Regions from separate parts of the Homo sapiens genome. Here region 2 is linked to region 1. Evidence: fine-mapped QTL for protein levels in blood plasma. A gene starts in region 1. The other region holds a variant in brackets. All regions are shown on one strand. Distances are from middle to middle.

Region 1 (8,344 bases):
ATGTGGTAGTAACAGGCATGAGAGTAAAATCAGCTTTTGAACTTCAAATCCCCAGCTGGTGACCAGACATGCATTCAATTACCAGCCTTAGCCAGTGTGTTTTTACCAATTGTGTTCAGACTTCCTTTCACAATCCCAAAGAAAGTATTCATCATTTAAGTTTTGTGTGATCATGAGAAGAATAACATGATCCCAATCTAACCAGAACATGCCAGACAATTTCCAAATTAAGGACATTCTCAAAACACCTAACCAATTCTTCTGCAAACTGCCATAGTCATCAAAAACAAGCAACATCTGAGAAACAGCCATAGCCAAGAAGAACCCAAAAAGTCACGATCACTAAATGCAACCTGGTGTCATGTTGGGATCCTGGACAGAAAAAGAACATTAGGAGCTGAAAATTTAATTCTACACCAAACCTGCACATGCATGTTTATAGCAGCTCTATTCATCACTGTCAAAATTTAGAGGCATCCAAAATGTCCTAGATGAATGAACAAATGAACTCGGGTACATCCAATCAATGGAATTTTAGTAGTAGGTGAATGAATAAAGGGACTTGGATATATCCAATCTTTGGAATTTTATCAGCACTTAAGAGAAATGTGCTATCAAGTTATGAAAAACATAGAGAAACCTTAAGTGCATATTACTAGGTAAAAAAGTCAATATAAAAGGTTACATATTGTGTGATTCCAACTATTTGAAATTCTTAAAAAGATAAAACTGAGGAGACAGCAAAAGGATGAGCATTGCCTGGGGTTGTAGGGGATGGAGTGGTAAGTAGGCAGAACACAGAGAATTTTTAGGGCAGCTAAACTATTCTGTATGATACCATAGTGGTGGGTACCGTCATTATACCTTTCTTAGTTAATTGATATTATGCATGTCATTATACATTTCTCAAAACCCAAAGAATGTACAGCACTTAGAGTGAACCTAATGGAAATGATGGACATTGGGTGATAATGACATGTTAATGTAGGTTTATTACTTACAGCAAATGTACTACCCTGGTTCATGATGTTGAAGGTAGGGGAGACTGTGCCTGCGTGTGGGGAGGGGTATATGGGACTTTTGATACTTTCCACTCAATTGTGCTATGAGCATAAAACTACTCTAAAAAATAAAGTCTGTCAATAATAATAATAATAATAATAAAAACTAGAACAACAGGTAAATCCTAAGCAAGTCTGAATAAAGTATGGACTTCAATTGACAATAATGTATCAATGTTTGTCAGTTGTGACAAACGTACCATAGTAATGTAACAGGTAAATAGGGAACCCAGGTGAGAATTGGAATGATAACTATCTTTGCAATTCTCTGTAAACCTAAAATTATTCTAAAACTTTAAAAAAAAATTTAAAGGGAAGGTATGAAGGGGCAAAGAGAGGAGAATTCCACAATTTATCAGTGTATGCGTACACTGCCTCATTTGTGTTTAGAATGATAGCAGCGGCCTCCAGATAATTCTTCTCTAATTGTGTGTCAGACACTGTGCTTAGTCCCCCTAAGCCTTGCCTCCACATCTGTCCCATGAGGACCTGGGCCGACTTTCCTCCTGGGGTTCTTGTGCAATGGGCCTTTATGTACTCATCCCCAAGAATTACAGAGCCCCTCAGTGCTGGGAGCATGGGGAGGTGGAGGGGCCTGAAGTTACTGGAACCTGCTATGCACTGCGTGGCTGGGGCTCCATGTCCTCTGCAGTCTCCCCAGAGCCACTGGAAAAGGACATCGTTTCCTTAGTTCATGGAGATACGAAGAAAGCTTGGGAAACAGCCTTAGCACAGTGCCTGGCACGCTGTAAGCTCATTGGAGGAAGTGTGCCATTTCTCCCCGTGGACATTCTTAAAGATGTGGGTGGCATGCAGGGCGTCAGGAGCCAATGACACCAACAGAGAGGGGCTCGCATTGGAGCCTGGCCTTGAAGGATGAGGCGGTGTGTGCCAGGCAGAGAAGGAAGGGAAGGGGATCCCAAGTGCAGGGAACAGCAGAGGCAAAGGCAGGAAGTGGGCGCATGCATGGAGTATCTGCAAATGGTGGGACAGGGTTTCAGTGTGGCCAGATTGCAGTGTGTGTGTGCATGTGTGTGTGTGTCTGTCTCTGTGTGTGTGTCAGTGTCACTGTGTGTGATTCTGTGTGTGTGTGCCTATGAGTATGTGTGTGAATGTGTCTAGGTGTCAGTATGTGTGTGTCTCTGTGTGTCTATGAGTGTGGTGTCTTTGAGTGTGTTTGTGTGTGTTTGAGTGTGTCAGTGTGTGTTTGTGTGTGTCTTTGTATGTGTGTCAGTGTGTATGTGTATTTATGTGTCTGCGTGTGAGTACCTGGAAATGAGGTTGGAAGGGCAGGATGAGCCAAGGAGGTGACTGCCCCACAGCCTGCTCTGATGCTGTGCTGCTGAGTCTAGAAGGGAAAGAGCAAAGCAGACGCTGGGATGGGAGTCACAGGAAGGGGAAGGGCCACAAGGAGCCAGTGGGGAATGTGCAGTGTTACCTGGCAAAGCTCAGAGAAGCACTTCCCAGAAAGACCCCGGAGTCCACATGTTTCCTTGTAAATATGTTTTGTGTTCCAACTGCAATCTGCCTCCAGAAAGAATCTGCCTGCCTCCCAAGGATCAAGTAGAATTTTCCATTTTGTAGGAGACTCCCCTTGTTGAGCAAAGCAGCTTTGCCTTGCCTATGTCCAAATAATCCTCCAAAATACCGCATGAGAGAGCCTGTTCGTGGAGGTCAGGGCCTCAGCGGGGTGTTTGTGAGGATAGTGAGGACGGACCCCTGGGTGAGGCAATTTTAGGAGAGAGGCACACAGCTTCAGAAATGGCTTCTTCCAACAGATTCATGCAGAGACTGAGCCTCTGAGTAAATTGGTCAACATCTATAGCTATGACCACGGAATTCTCAAACAGGTGGATCGTTCATAAAATCCAAACACAGTTACAAGTTTTGGCCTGCATAGTGTTGAGCTACAGCTTTATTTTTAGAAAATTTTAATTAGCTGCCAACCAATTTCATATAAACACATCTGGATTTGGGGATGTCATTTTAAAAATCAGACAGTGTGACAATACTGAGCCTAATCCCTGCATTTTCTCAGTCAATTGGAGATGAGTGTTGACCTCTATGGAGGCAGAGACTCTCTAGTTTGCCACAGTCCCCATCACTCCCTATTGCCTTATCTCAAACCCAAAAGTCAGTTGCCATTTAATATCACACTAAACAATAGTTTTCTTATGGCTGAATTAAGGAAAAGTGAACAATTTCTTCTTCTGAAAATCTATGAAAGGTGAGGTGATAATATATAATGAGGGCCACATCTTCCCTGTAGAAGTGAGTTTCTTTTTAAATGCTGCATATGTAAATAACAAATGTCTGTTTTCAAAGTATACAACTTAAGACCCTGTCATGAGGCAAAACGATTCTGCTCCACTTTATGTTAACAGCTTAGCCCAGTAAAAATTTAGTATGCAGCTATAAAGGAGACGTTGTTATTGTCAGCACACTGCAAATGGATGATGGGAGAGGCTAAGTGGTTTGGGCATAGCACTCAGCTAAACACATGCTGTGGCCAGGATTCCACCTGGGTCATTCTGGTGTGGGACTGTGCCTGTAGCAGGCAGGGCAGCCTGAGCTCTCTGAATGAGACCTGAAGGTAAGTATTTACAACAGTAATCTTATATTAAAAATTCCCTCTTTACCAGCCTCTCAGAGCCTGGTAGAATTCCCTGATAAAAAAGAGGGAATTTTTAATGTAAATTTCCCTGCCTCTAGAATTAGGGTATCCTCTGCTTATGTAGTAACTTCAGATGGAAAAAGGAACTCAGACACTACGAAAACTTCGGCAACTTCAGTCACCCATTCAACAAAGATTTATTGAGAGTGGCAGGCAGGAAGAGATCAGACCATGGATGTAGAGAATCTCACTTTTAATTTTGAGATGTTCCTTTTCCTGCCTCTGTGAACTTGGACAAGCTCTTACATATCTCCAGAACCAATTCCTGCTTTTGTAAAAGGGGAGGAATCATTGCACTCCCTACTAGAGCGGATGTGATGAGGGAAAAGGAGAACTCAGGTAAAATGGGCTCAGTAGTTTGGCAGCTCGGATCATGTCATTATAGTTATTTTACTCCTCCATAGACATCACTGCTGGGGTCCTCTCCCCATCAAGGAGGGTCACTGTGAGGCTGAGTTGTCCTCCTATCCTGGCCACAGGGTGGACAGGGAAGGGCCTAGAGGAAGCGTTTGATGGCATGCAGGTAACCCCCCTTTTCACTGGATTACATCCAGCACTTTCCCTGCAGGAACCGGCTCCCTCGGAGGGGCGTGGCTGGGAGGAGCTGTGAGTAACGTGCCACAGTGTTGTAAAAACCCAGTGAGTGTTATAAAAACCCAGTCAGCCTGGCTCCTGTTGAATAGTCTACCCCCCTTGCACTCTACCTGACACAGCTGCAGCCTGCAATTCACTCGCACTGCCTGGGATTGCACTGGATCCGTGTGCTCAGAACAAGGTAAGAGCCTCGCTCCTTTAACAGCTTTATTACCTGCTGCCACTTCTCACTCCACCAAGGGCCTGGAGTTCCTTGGGCCTGCATTCCATCATGGGCAGGTGGGGGCTGAGCCCCAGGGCCGTGAGAAATGACTGGGTGTTTTTCTGGCATATCCAGTCTCCTCTTCACCATTTATTGCTGTTCTCTGCCCTTTTGTGATTGTCTTTCTCCTTCTTAACCCTAGAAGATGGCCAACTTCTAGGGTAGAAATCAGATCAGGACCATTTCCTGGGTCTGCCTCTTTTTATAAAAAATTCTGTGTTTTGTTTTAAATGGAGCACAAATAATACAAATCATCTTATCATTATGTGTTATATGAAACTAAATTGTCATTGTTCATAGTTGTTTTTCTTATTCTTTGGCAATGTTTTTAAAGGGCAGAGTAAATGTGAAAAGCAAAAAGTGATCAACCAGGGGTGACAGAAAGGAATAAGGAGATTGATCTGGCTACCCATACCAGCTTTGAACTTGCCCACTATGAGATCCTGAGCAATTTACTTACCTGTCTGAGCCTTAAGAGTCAGAGCTGTCACCTGGGATGACATATTAATAGCTACCTGGAAGAGCTCTTGTGTGGATTTCACAAGGTGGGAATCAAACCCTAGACCAGTACTTAGCACACAGGAGGTGTCATATAGAAACTGACTTCTCTTCTTCTGTTAAGCATGGGTTTTTATTGTACACATGATCAGATTCATGCAGTTCAGTGTGACGTTGGTGTTCATCCTATTGATTCAATGATTTCTCATGATCCTTGTCTTCGATCTTGTAGTGTGAACTATCTGGTTGAAATTCACCTCTCTCCACCCTGATTCACTTTGCCCAGGCAAATCAGACAACCACCCCACCTCACACCTTTCCTTAAACTCTTACTTCCCCACAAAAAGCTCCCCCACCCCCACAACCCCACCCACCCCACCCAAACCCCAGGCATGTTCAACTCTGGGTCAACATCACCTTTCATGATGCTTACCACATCCTTTCTCATTTTGGGCATCTGTCATGTCTTTTCTCATTTTGGGCATCTGTGTCCATATGGAGTCATGAGATAGAAATCCAGCCCTTTGGAGCTGAAAGTTTGGAGCAGTAACTTGTTTCATATCAGAAACAGAGATGACGGGATAGATTCCCTGATCAATGCTATTTAAATTCTCCCAAAGAGTGGTCTCTAAGCTCTTTCAAATCTGAGGCTTTCTCAATCATGGTGATTTCTTCAACACCTAGTCTGGTGGGGGGCATATAGTAGGTGCTCAGTAAATGCTTGTTGAATGAGTGAATGAAAGAGTGAGGAGTGAGCAGATGCAGGAGTTAATGAGTGAATAAATGATAAATGAGAGTTCGTGAGGCTCCAAAGAGTGGTACTTTTGTGACACTCAAGACTCAAGTCAAGTGGAAATGTGAGTAGACAGGCTGTTTGTCTAGTGACTCCAGGAGCCAGAAGCGTTCTTGGTCTACTCTGAAATCATGTAGGCACCTGTCAGGGTAGGGGGAGGCCAGCGTGTAGTCCTGCACAGCTGAACTGCTGCCTGCCACTGACTCACTTGCCTTTTGTCAAACAGGTGAACGCCCAGCTGCAGCCATGAAGATCTGTAGCCTCACCCTGCTCTCCTTCCTCCTACTGGCTGCTCAGGTGCTCCTGGTGGAGGGGAAAAAAAAAGTGAAGAATGGACTTCACAGCAAAGTGGTCTCAGAACAAAAGGACACTCTGGGCAACACCCAGATTAAGCAGAAAAGCAGGCCCGGGAACAAAGGCAAGTTTGTCACCAAAGACCAAGCCAACTGCAGATGGGCTGCTACTGAGCAGGAGGAGGGCATCTCTCTCAAGGTTGAGTGCACTCAATTGGACCATGAATTTTCCTGTGTCTTTGCTGGCAATCCAACCTCATGCCTAAAGCTCAAGGATGAGAGAGTCTATTGGAAACAAGTTGCCCGGAATCTGCGCTCACAGAAAGACATCTGTAGATATTCCAAGACAGCTGTGAAAACCAGAGTGTGCAGAAAGGATTTTCCAGAATCCAGTCTTAAGCTAGTCAGCTCCACTCTATTTGGGAACACAAAGCCCAGGAAGGAGAAAACAGAGATGTCCCCCAGGGAGCACATCAAAGGCAAAGAGACCACCCCCTCTAGCCTAGCAGTGACCCAGACCATGGCCACCAAAGCTCCCGAGTGTGTGGAGGACCCAGATATGGCAAACCAGAGGAAGACTGCCCTGGAGTTCTGTGGAGAGACTTGGAGCTCTCTCTGCACATTCTTCCTCAGCATAGTGCAGGACACGTCATGCTAATGAGGTCAAAAGAGAACGGGTTCCCTTAAGAGATGTCATGTCGTAAGTCCCTCTGTATACTTTAAAGCTCTCTACAGTCCCCCCAAAATATGAACTTTTGTGCTTAGTGAGTGCAACGAAATATTTAAACAAGTTTTGTATTTTTTGCTTTTGTGTTTTGGAATTTGCCTTATTTTTCTTGGATGCGATGTTCAGAGGCTGTTTCCTGCAGCATGTATTTCCATGGCCCACACAGCTATGTGTTTGAGCAGCGAAGAGTCTTTGAGCTGAATGAGCCAGAGTGATAATTTCAGTGCAACGAACTTTCTGCTGAATTAATGGTAATAAAACTCTGGGTGTTTTTCAGAAATACATTCAAACATTGCTTGGTTTTCTCTGTGTCTGGTCCCAAATAAACTCATTAAGTAGTCCCCATATATCAATGGAAAAACAATCTAAACAGGAACTTCCAGTTCCCCACCCTTCGCAAGTTATCTCTTTCTGGAATCCTTCTTTATAATTGTATCCATTGGTCAGTGGTGTTTGGTGTTTATTGAAGTATAATAACTAGGATCCCTGTTTTCAGGTGGGACACCTGGTATATAATGTGATTAAATCATTTGTCAGGGACTCATAGATGGTAAGAGGGCCGGTAGGATTGGAACCCAGGAGCTCTGACAGCTGAGTCTACAGGGTTGAGGAACCTCCGCTACTGATTCATGTCAGAGCTGCCCATTCCCTCCCCCACCCGAAAGACCCCGGCCTTGCAAAGCTCAATTCTGGAGAAGAAATGAGTTTCATTCCTTCATTCTTCATTCTTGGAGAAGAAAGGCCTAGTTAAGTACAGTGGCCCAAGATAAGGGCTATAAAGGAAGGGGGAGAGGGCTACAAGGAAAACCAGAGAGAGAAGGCAGAAACTGCTGTAAGATCTGGGCTTGAGTGTAACAGGGGAGGGAATAGTGGAGCTGGATTTTGGAAAGAGTATCTGTGGGAATAAAATGGGGCAAAGTGGAGGCACTTTAGGCATTTGATAACATGAATGAAAGTGAATAGATGGGAAGTTTCAGATTCTGGGAGAGGTCAGGTGTCTGGGATCGGATGGGATGCAGCGATGAGACTGCCATTATTCATTTATATGTTAGTATGAAGGATCTGAAAGTTGTATTTTAAGAGTGGGGGAGAGAGGATGAACTGTCTCCAATGCCTTGTCACAATTCCACAACCAGGGAAAGGAGGAGCAGAAGCTGACGAAAGCACTGTTCTTTAGCATGTCTGATGGTGGCAGGGAGGAATGGCAGGTGGGGGGGAAGGAAAGCCTTTTACATTCACCAACCTACTGGGATGCACACTGAGGACGTCAGAGGCCAATCCACAGTGCCACAGCCTCAGAGTGACATTTGGATGTCATCATGATCATCAATAAAAAGAGCACTTATCTCTTACCTGCTATGAGCAAGCACTGTTCCAAGTTTTCCCATGGATAGTGGATTTATTCATTCACTCACTCACTCAACACATAACTTACAGAGCAC
Region 2 (8,344 bases), 330 kb before region 1:
TACATCCCTCTAACAAATTCCCCTTTTATAAGATCTTGGCCAGAGTTCATTTTTGTGGCTTTCCAAAGAGGAACCCTAACTGATACACCTCTCCTAAGAAATTTAAGCCAGATCCACATGGCTTCCCCTGATAGGAGGGAAGACAGTCATGATTATCTGGCAAATTGGGGCTGTTTCTAAGGATTGCTTGCGGTCATTTTAAATTGGAAAATATCCTGTGAGTAGATGACATAATCAGATGCAGTGGAGGTAGTGGTTAAGAACCAAGCTCCGGAGCCAGGCCTTGCGGGTTTAAACCTCACTTCCTCCACTGAATAGTTGTATAACCTTGGGCAAATTGCTTAAAAGTGAAATGGAGAAAGCAAGAAGCCATTCCTCCTGGGACTGCTACAAGAATGAATGAGCTGTACATGTGGAATTCATAGAGCAGAGCCTGACACCAGCAAGCATTTGTAAGCATGTAAAATGTGATTATTAAGACTTCTGAAAAAATAGGCTCTGTGAGTAAGCAAATAAGATTTTTAAAATAATGATTCAATAAACTTACCTGACATCCGTATACAGGTAATTGTATAGCATCCAAAGTAGTCACCCTGGGGCTACAAATATTCTCATGATGTTGCCATTATTCAAGGGTTGTTTTTTTTGTCAGAATTTCTCCTTTAGAATTTTATTTAGAATCTGCCATACATAGGTTTGATTGCCCTTGTTCCAGCAAAAAAGGGATTTAGTTACAAAATCCCATTGAAAATAATGATTAGAATATGTAGGCTCAGTGTGTGACCATTCTTCCTTCTGGTCACCCAAGCCTTGTGCTGCAGGTAACCACAGAGGTGAGGAACTATGAATCTTTGCCCCTGTGAGCCTCACTGGCTTGGGGAAACCAAGTCCTGTGGAACAACTCCAAGTGCTTGCCTGGAAAGACTCTAAGTCTCCTTAGCTGCCTTGACAAGGTATCAGATGGCTTCCAAGGAAACCTCAGTCCCAGAAAATTTTCTTGGCTCTATGTCCCATCTCACTTCTCCTAAAGGTCTTGATCAGTGAGTGCTGCTACTACCACCACCGCCTCTTGGTCCTTTGCCAAGGCTTGGGTGGGTTGCTCCCCAGTCCTGTCTGTAGTGCTTTCTTAAGCTCTCCAAAGGTATCCAGAGTCAGTCCATTCATCATAGCCCCTGACACATGTTAACTTGAATCAGTTCCCAGCAAACTGAATCTATGGGGTAGCTGAAGGTCCAACCAATGCCTTATTAAGTAAGGTTTAACCCTCTGCACTGTTCAGGATTTGAAGATAATTGAGAGTGAGAAAATTTAGCTCCCAACTGCCAATAAGAGCAGGAAATCAAAAAGCCCATGGGCTCCCATCCCAGTGCCAACTGATGCTGTGCTTTTTATTCAGGACTCCCCAGTGCTGACAGATGTCTTGGTTGAGGGGTAGTGGTGGTAGATATCATCAAGGCACAGGTGTATTTCAATGTATGTGTGAATCAAAGAAACAGTGTTTGAGTAGAAGCAGGCATTGATGATCCTGTTATGATCCCAAAAGATGGTCCAAGTGACCAAGTCCTATGGTGAACACAAGTAGTGGTACAGTCCTCCAGTAGTAACTACTTTTTAGGGATACTGGCTCACCAGTGATGCTGCCTTAGGAGGCCTCTGAGCCAAACCAGTCAGGCTCTTAGATGAAAGCTGCTTCAGTTCCTACAGCCTCAGAGACAGAGACAGATGATTGTCTCTGAAGCCAGTATGGACACAAAGTGCAGCTCAATGAGTGAGAAGAGGCTTGGGAATAGATGAGTGGTTCTGCTGCTCACCGCTGGGAAGCCTAAACTCCAGAGACAAGGGTTGGTGGGAGGAAAAGCAGGTTTATTTGGAGAATCAGCAAACCAAGAAGATGGTGGACTAACATCCTAAAGTATCATCTTAACTTGGTACAAATTTCAGGTTCTTTTCATGTTAAGGGCAGGGGGAAGAAGAGGGAGTTGTGATCAAGAGGTGACAAATGACTGCAGACATCTGAGCACCAGTGAGGGTTGGAGGAGGTTGGGAACTTCTTTGTCGTCAGTCAGGTCACAGTGTACCCGTATATCTTTAACAAAGTACAGTTAATTGTTTACCTACTTTCCCTCTAATTCCAGAGTTAGTTACAGAAACTCCGTGACTGCTGTTTTTGCATATTATCTCAGTGCTCTAAAATTATCCTAGCCTAGGTGCAGGAATGGGTAAATGCTCCTTAAATAAAAATGGAGTTAGTTATGTTAGTTCGTTTGCTGTTTCCCTGTTACAATAAAAGCCAGGGCTGTTCAGAAACACGGCTACAGTTGGGACTCTCCTGCGAAGACACAGGCTCCAGGGAGGTCATTCCCTACCTGTGCAGGGAAACAGTCCCTGAAATGAGGGCGGAAAACAATAGAGGAGGCCCATTCTCAAGGCCCTTCTGGATTAGTGACCCACAGCATGAGGCTCCATGGAGACACCTGCAGCACTTACAAGGCAGAGCCCAGTGGGTTTCAGTGACAACAGGTTGGTATAGGTCTCCTGCCACAATTTTGACACCGAGCTCCTAACACCATCTTGGCAGTCTCAGTGACCATTTCTTCAGCAATGTTGCTAAACTTAAGCTAGTTCAAATTAACACCCAATTTTTTATAATTTCTCCTTTCTCAACTACCAAATCTTGTTCACATATATAAATTGCTGACTGTATGTATTAATGCTTTATTTTGAATTCTACAAATAAATATTCTTAAGGAAGATTCATCTGTTTTCATTTCTCATATTGTCCTTGTTTTGTTTTCAAGGGGAGATCAGCCTTATAAAATGAACTTAAGAACTTTGTCTTTCTCTAGTCACTGGAACAGTCTGCATAAGCTAGTGAAGAATCTTTCTTCACAATTTGATGGGCTTAGTGTTGAAAGTTGTCTGATCCAGGTGAGTGACAGCGTGTGTGTGTGTGTGTGTGTGTGTGTGTGTGTCTGTTTTTGAAGACAAATTCAATTTCTCTAGTGTTAACAGGACTTTTCAGATTTTCCATATTTTCTTAAATCATTTCTGGTTCTCTACGTTTTTCTACAAGCTTACTGAACTATTTGCAAACTTTTTGGCATAAAGTTGGAAATATCTGTAATATCTTCTGTCTCTGGTTGTGATTCCTTTTTCATTCCTAATGTTAATAATCATTTGCCAGTAATAAATGCTTAATATCAATTATCATTGCTGTAAGTTTGTCTGTTTTGTTAGCCTCTTCAAAGAAGTGTTTTAATGTTCACTGATGGTCTATTTTTTTGCCTCCCATTTAATTAATTTCTGCTTTTATTTTCATTATTCCCTTTTTCTCTTGCTTTAAGGTTACTCTGCCATTCTTTTCCTAACTTCTCAGACTAAATAATTTCTTTTGTAATTTTATATCTTCTTTTGTCTAATAAATGTATTAAAGCCATAAATCTAAAGTATTGCAATAGCTAAATCCCATTATCTTTTATATGTAGTGTTTCGTTGTTATTCTCTTCTTAATATTTTGTAATTTTTATTATAATTTCTTCTTGATATACATTATTAATTGATAGCTATGAATTTTTTAAATTCCAAAACTATGGGGATTGTTTTTAGTATCAATTGCTAGTTTAAATTGCATTTCAGTCAAACAACAGGGCCTACAGCATATTAATTTTTAGGTAATATAACTTTTTTGTGGCTCAGATTTTTTTGTGTGTCATTCAGTAATATGTGTATTTTCTAACTAA[T/C]GGGATCAGGGCTCTATTATGTTCATCTTATTGTATTGCTCAAATTTTCTAAATCCTTAAACAAATTGTTTTATCAAATTTTGAGAACATATGATAAATTCTCCCATATTTAGTAAGAATATACCCATGAAATTCTTTAGGTATTTACTTCAGCTTTTTGAAAGACGATGTTCTTAGCCGCAGGTGGGGTCAGACTATTTTAACTTCCTGTTTTTATTTTATTGTTATATAGTCACTCTCTTATCCCTAACATTGCTTTTGCTGCTATGAAAAAGGTAGTATCAAGCTAATATTGATAATTAATATTAATAATAATGCTACTTTTTTGGTTTTTGACATGGAGTCTGGCTCTGTCACCCAAGCTGGAGTGCAGTGGTGCCATCTCTGCTCATTGCCACCTTTACCTCTCAAGTTCAAACAAGTCTCCTGCCTCAGCCTCCCAAGTAACTGGGATTACAGGTGTGTGCCCCCACCCCTGGCTAATTTTTTTTTTTTTTTTGTATTTTTAGTAGAAATGGGGTTTGGCCATGTTGGCCAGGCTCATCTTGAACTCTGACCTCAGGTGATCTGCCCGCCTTGGCCTCCCAAAGGATTACAGGTGTGAGCCACCACGCCAGGCCAATAATAATGCTACTTTTAATATTGCTATCACAACTTTTTGGGGAGGAGGGCTTGCATAGAAAACTCATTTCCTGGAGGCAGTGAGCATGGCTTGGGCTGCCAGCCTGCAAGCTCAGGACCCCTTTGCTTAGGCCAGCCCTCAGCGAGAGAAAGCAGAAGCATGCCCTGTAAGCTCTGTCTTGTCTCTCCTTGCCCTGCATGTGCTGGGCAGGGACAGGGGAGCCAAGACTTTGCTGATGAGCCCTTCTTCATGGGCTGCTGACATCTGCAGATGCTGCTAAGCAGAAGTGCCCTGTTCTGAGCAGCTAATCCTGCTCCTCCTACCATACTGCAGCTCCTCTCCACACCAGGTAAGTCTTATCCCGCTCTCTCACCGAGGACAAGGAGCACATCCCAGCATCTAGCACATTCGATGGCTATCAAGACACTTCAGCCTAAGCTCAGCTCTGCCATGAAGAAGCTCGGAGACCGGGTAAATCTACTTGGCCTGTCTGGGTGTATGTTTCTTCTATAAAGTAAGGGAGGTACATGTTTTTAATGTTTGAGGTCATGGCTAGCTAAGGGAAATGCTATGAATCTATCTAATTGTAGTAAGTGATCTTGTTTTTAACATATTATGAATTTCAAATCCTAAGTGCTTCACTGAGAAATTAGACAAATCCTCAGAATTAGGCACAAGAAGGCTTGGTGATGGGGAATGGCAGGAAAAGCCATGAATAATAGGAAATATTTATTAGATTGCAGCCTGGTAGAGCAGGAGCAACTTTCTTTAAAAAAAATCAAACTAATGATGACTTTTTTTTTCCAGAAAATTCCCCTTTTTCCTAAACTTTCACATATCTGGGGAAAATGACAATTTTCAAAACAAAGCAGGTGTAAGTACGGCTAAAACATGTTTAATACATAATATCCCTTTGAATTTTATCTTGGTCCTCCAAAAATCTAACAAAGTAACTTTCTCCTAAGGAAAAAAGACTAAACATATAGATATTATAGAGAGCTTTTCCTAGGAAATCTTACCTATACCAGTGTTTTCACCCTAAAGTGCTACATAATTTGGGAAAATCCCGATACTTATCAAAATTCAGAAACAAAAAGCACAAATCTGAGATCCCAGGCACAGCTCTCCTGCTTCTTTATCGTCAAGCCTATGAATTTCACTAGGTGGCAGCATGTAATAACAAATAATGACATTATAAGGTTATAAATAACGAAACTGTAACAAGCTACTTTAATAGCAAATGTCAGCCTCACAAAGATTCTAAAATAATAGAAAGAGTTCTAGTCCTTTTTCAGCATAACTCTAAAGTCCTTTAGAGGACTTTTTTTCTCCACACATTCACACATTCTATTTTAAGTAAAAATTATGGAACTAATGGCTAGAGGGGTTAGGATTCTCTTTGACATCTTTTCTTCATTAATATTTAGATAAAGGAAATGAAAACTCACCTCTAAGCCAAAAGAAGTTTTAAAAGATACCAACAATTAGTTACAATTAAGTCTTTCTCAAGGTCAGGATTTTATTTGGCAATTAGTGATCTAGAAAAGAATGCCAAAATTTTTGACGCAGAAAAAAACATACCAATGCAACTGAAATATTTAAGGCCATAGGTAGCATTCTACAAATTCAGGGCATGAACATGTTTTGCCTGGCCTGAACTCTGTGTGTGTGTGTGTGTGTGTGTGTGTGTGCGCGTGTGTGTATGCAGAATTGTCCATATTCAAATTTGAACTTTTTTACAGAAAACTGAGATAAATTAAGGAAGAGCTAAGTTGATAGAGAGTCACTTTCATAGATTGGAAGACTCAATATTATTAAGATGTCAATTCTACCCAATCAAATTTCCAGCAAGTATTTTTGGTAAAGATTGACAAGTTAATTCAATAATTTGCAAATCCAAATGACATAGAATTGCCAAAACTATTCTGAAACAAAAAAAGAATAAAGTTTAAGAACTTAAACTACCTCATTTCGAAACTTATTTGAAAGCTGCAGTAACTAAGACAGTATGACAGAGATACAAAGAGAGACATACACATCAGTGGAAGACAAGACAATGAAGAGTTTAGAAATATGCAAACATATACGGCCCATTAATTTTTGCTGAAAATGCCAAAATAAACAAATGGAAATACAGTAGTCTTTTTAGTAAATGGTGTTGAAAAACTAACTATCCATATGCAAAAAACGAACTATCCATACGCAAAAAAAAAAACTCAATTTTTAATTCACACCACACATTAAAATTCATTTAAAATGGGTAAGACCTAAGTGAAAAAGCCATAACTACAAAGCTTCTACAAGGCGGAAAACAATTTACATTAAAAAGCACAAAAGAAAATCCTCACAACTTTGGGGACAGGCAAAGATTTCTTAGATAGAATAGAAAGGACACACCATAAAAGAAAAATTGATAGATTTGACCTTATCAAAACTTGTCCTTTCTAAAAGGCACTATTAAGAAAATGCAAAGACAAGCCACAGATTGTGAGAAAATGTTCACAATCCATATATATGAGAAAACACTTGTATTCAGAATATATAAAGAATTCTTCCAACTCAATAACAAGAAGACAAACAAACATCCAGTAAAAAATGGACAAAAGACTTGGATGCTTTATTGGCTAATAAACTCATGAAAAGATAGGCAACATCTTTAGTCTTTAGACCAATGCAAATTTAAACCAAAATAAAATATAACTGCACTTATAGTTTAGAATGGATAAAATTTAATAGACTGGCAATATCTAGTATTAATGAAGGTAAGAAGCAACATTGCTGGTGAAAAACCATCTGACAATTTCTTATAAAGTTAAATGTATATTTACCATCTCACTATTCAGTATATACCCAGAAGAAATCAAAGCATATGTATATGCACATGAATCTCCATAGTAGCTTTGTTCATAACAGCCAACCATTGGAAACAACCCAAATGTGTGGTTTGATTGGATAAACAGATTGTGGTATATTTATAAATAGACTACCACTCAGAAATAAAAAGGAACAAATTACTGATAACAACATGAATGAATCTCAAAAATGCTTTGTTGAAGAGTCCGGACACAAAAGAGTGTATACTATCTGATACTATTCATATAAACAGTCAAAACTAATATGGCGCCTGGGCGCAGCAGCTCACACCTGTAATCCCAGCACTCTGGGAGGCTGAGGCGGGTGGATCACTTGAGGTCAGGAGTTCGAGACCAGCCTGGCAACATAGCGAAAACCCATCTCTACTGAAAATACAAAAATCATCATGACGTGGTGGCAGGCGCCTGTAATCCCAATTACTCAGGAGGCTGAGGCAGGGGAATCGCTTGAACTCGGAAGGCAGAGGTGGCAGTGAGCTGAGATCGCACCATTGCACTCTCCAGCCTGGATGACAGAGAGAGACTCTGTCTCAAAAAAAAAAAAAAAAAAAAAAAAAAAGAAAACCCTATTGTGGCTTTCTGCATTCGAACAAGCACAACTAGTCTATATTAAGAGATTAAGAGCAAGCAGATCTATGGTTTCTTGAGATTGGAGATGGGGGACTTTGAATGCAAAGGGGCATGAGGTAACTTTTTAGGGTGATGGAATCAAACTTATGTCTTGATTGGGCTGGCAATTACATAAGTGAATATATATATATATATTTTGAAACTTATCGAACTGTGCATCTAAAAGAAGGGGGGGAAGTATACAAATTATCCCACAATAAAGATAATCAAATTAGTGGGCCCAGCAGTGTGGGGAGGGGAAATATAAGAAAGAGTAATTGCACCAACGCTGCTGTTTTCTGCAGCTTCCCTTTGATGTGTGACACGTGTGCTTCCGGTAGCCATGCTTCATGCTTTCTGCACTAGAATATATTAAGGATTCAATACAAATAGCAAAGAATTCTATCTCTCCACCTACAAACACTTCACACTTTATTTTTCTGCATTTTTGTACATCTGCTTTTCTTTCTGTCATCCTGACTGCTGCACTAGTCCAAACA

Which allele goes with the higher level. Positions count from the first base shown, and alleles are read on the strand shown. Strength reflects both the effect of a copy and how common the allele is.
As copies of C replace T in region 2, the plasma level of the protein whose gene starts at base 4,021 in region 1 goes up (weak association).

The links. PIP is the chance, under the fine-mapping model, that this variant and not a neighbour inherited with it causes the effect. The UK Biobank Pharma Proteomics Project read protein levels with antibody pairs (Olink). The fine-mapping took linkage between variants from a reference panel, not from the people measured, so its PIPs are less certain.
Region 2: its variant is fine-mapped to the plasma level of the FGFBP1 protein (UK Biobank, PIP above 0.99).

The regions. Positions count from the first base shown.
Region 1 is chr4:15,934,417-15,942,760 of GRCh38, reverse strand. It overlaps FGFBP1 (fibroblast growth factor binding protein 1), which reads left to right and starts at 4,021. Exons shown (of 3, transcript NM_005130.5): 1 at 4,021-4,074; 2 at 4,290-4,510; 3 at 6,109-7,184. The coding sequence starts at 6,129. The coding sequence ends at 6,833.
Region 2 is chr4:16,262,202-16,270,545 of GRCh38, reverse strand. No RefSeq gene overlaps it. Among named protein-coding and RNA genes, the nearest start is that of TAPT1-AS1, 40 kb to the right of the region's middle. The variant T/C (reference allele first, on the strand shown) is at 3,741.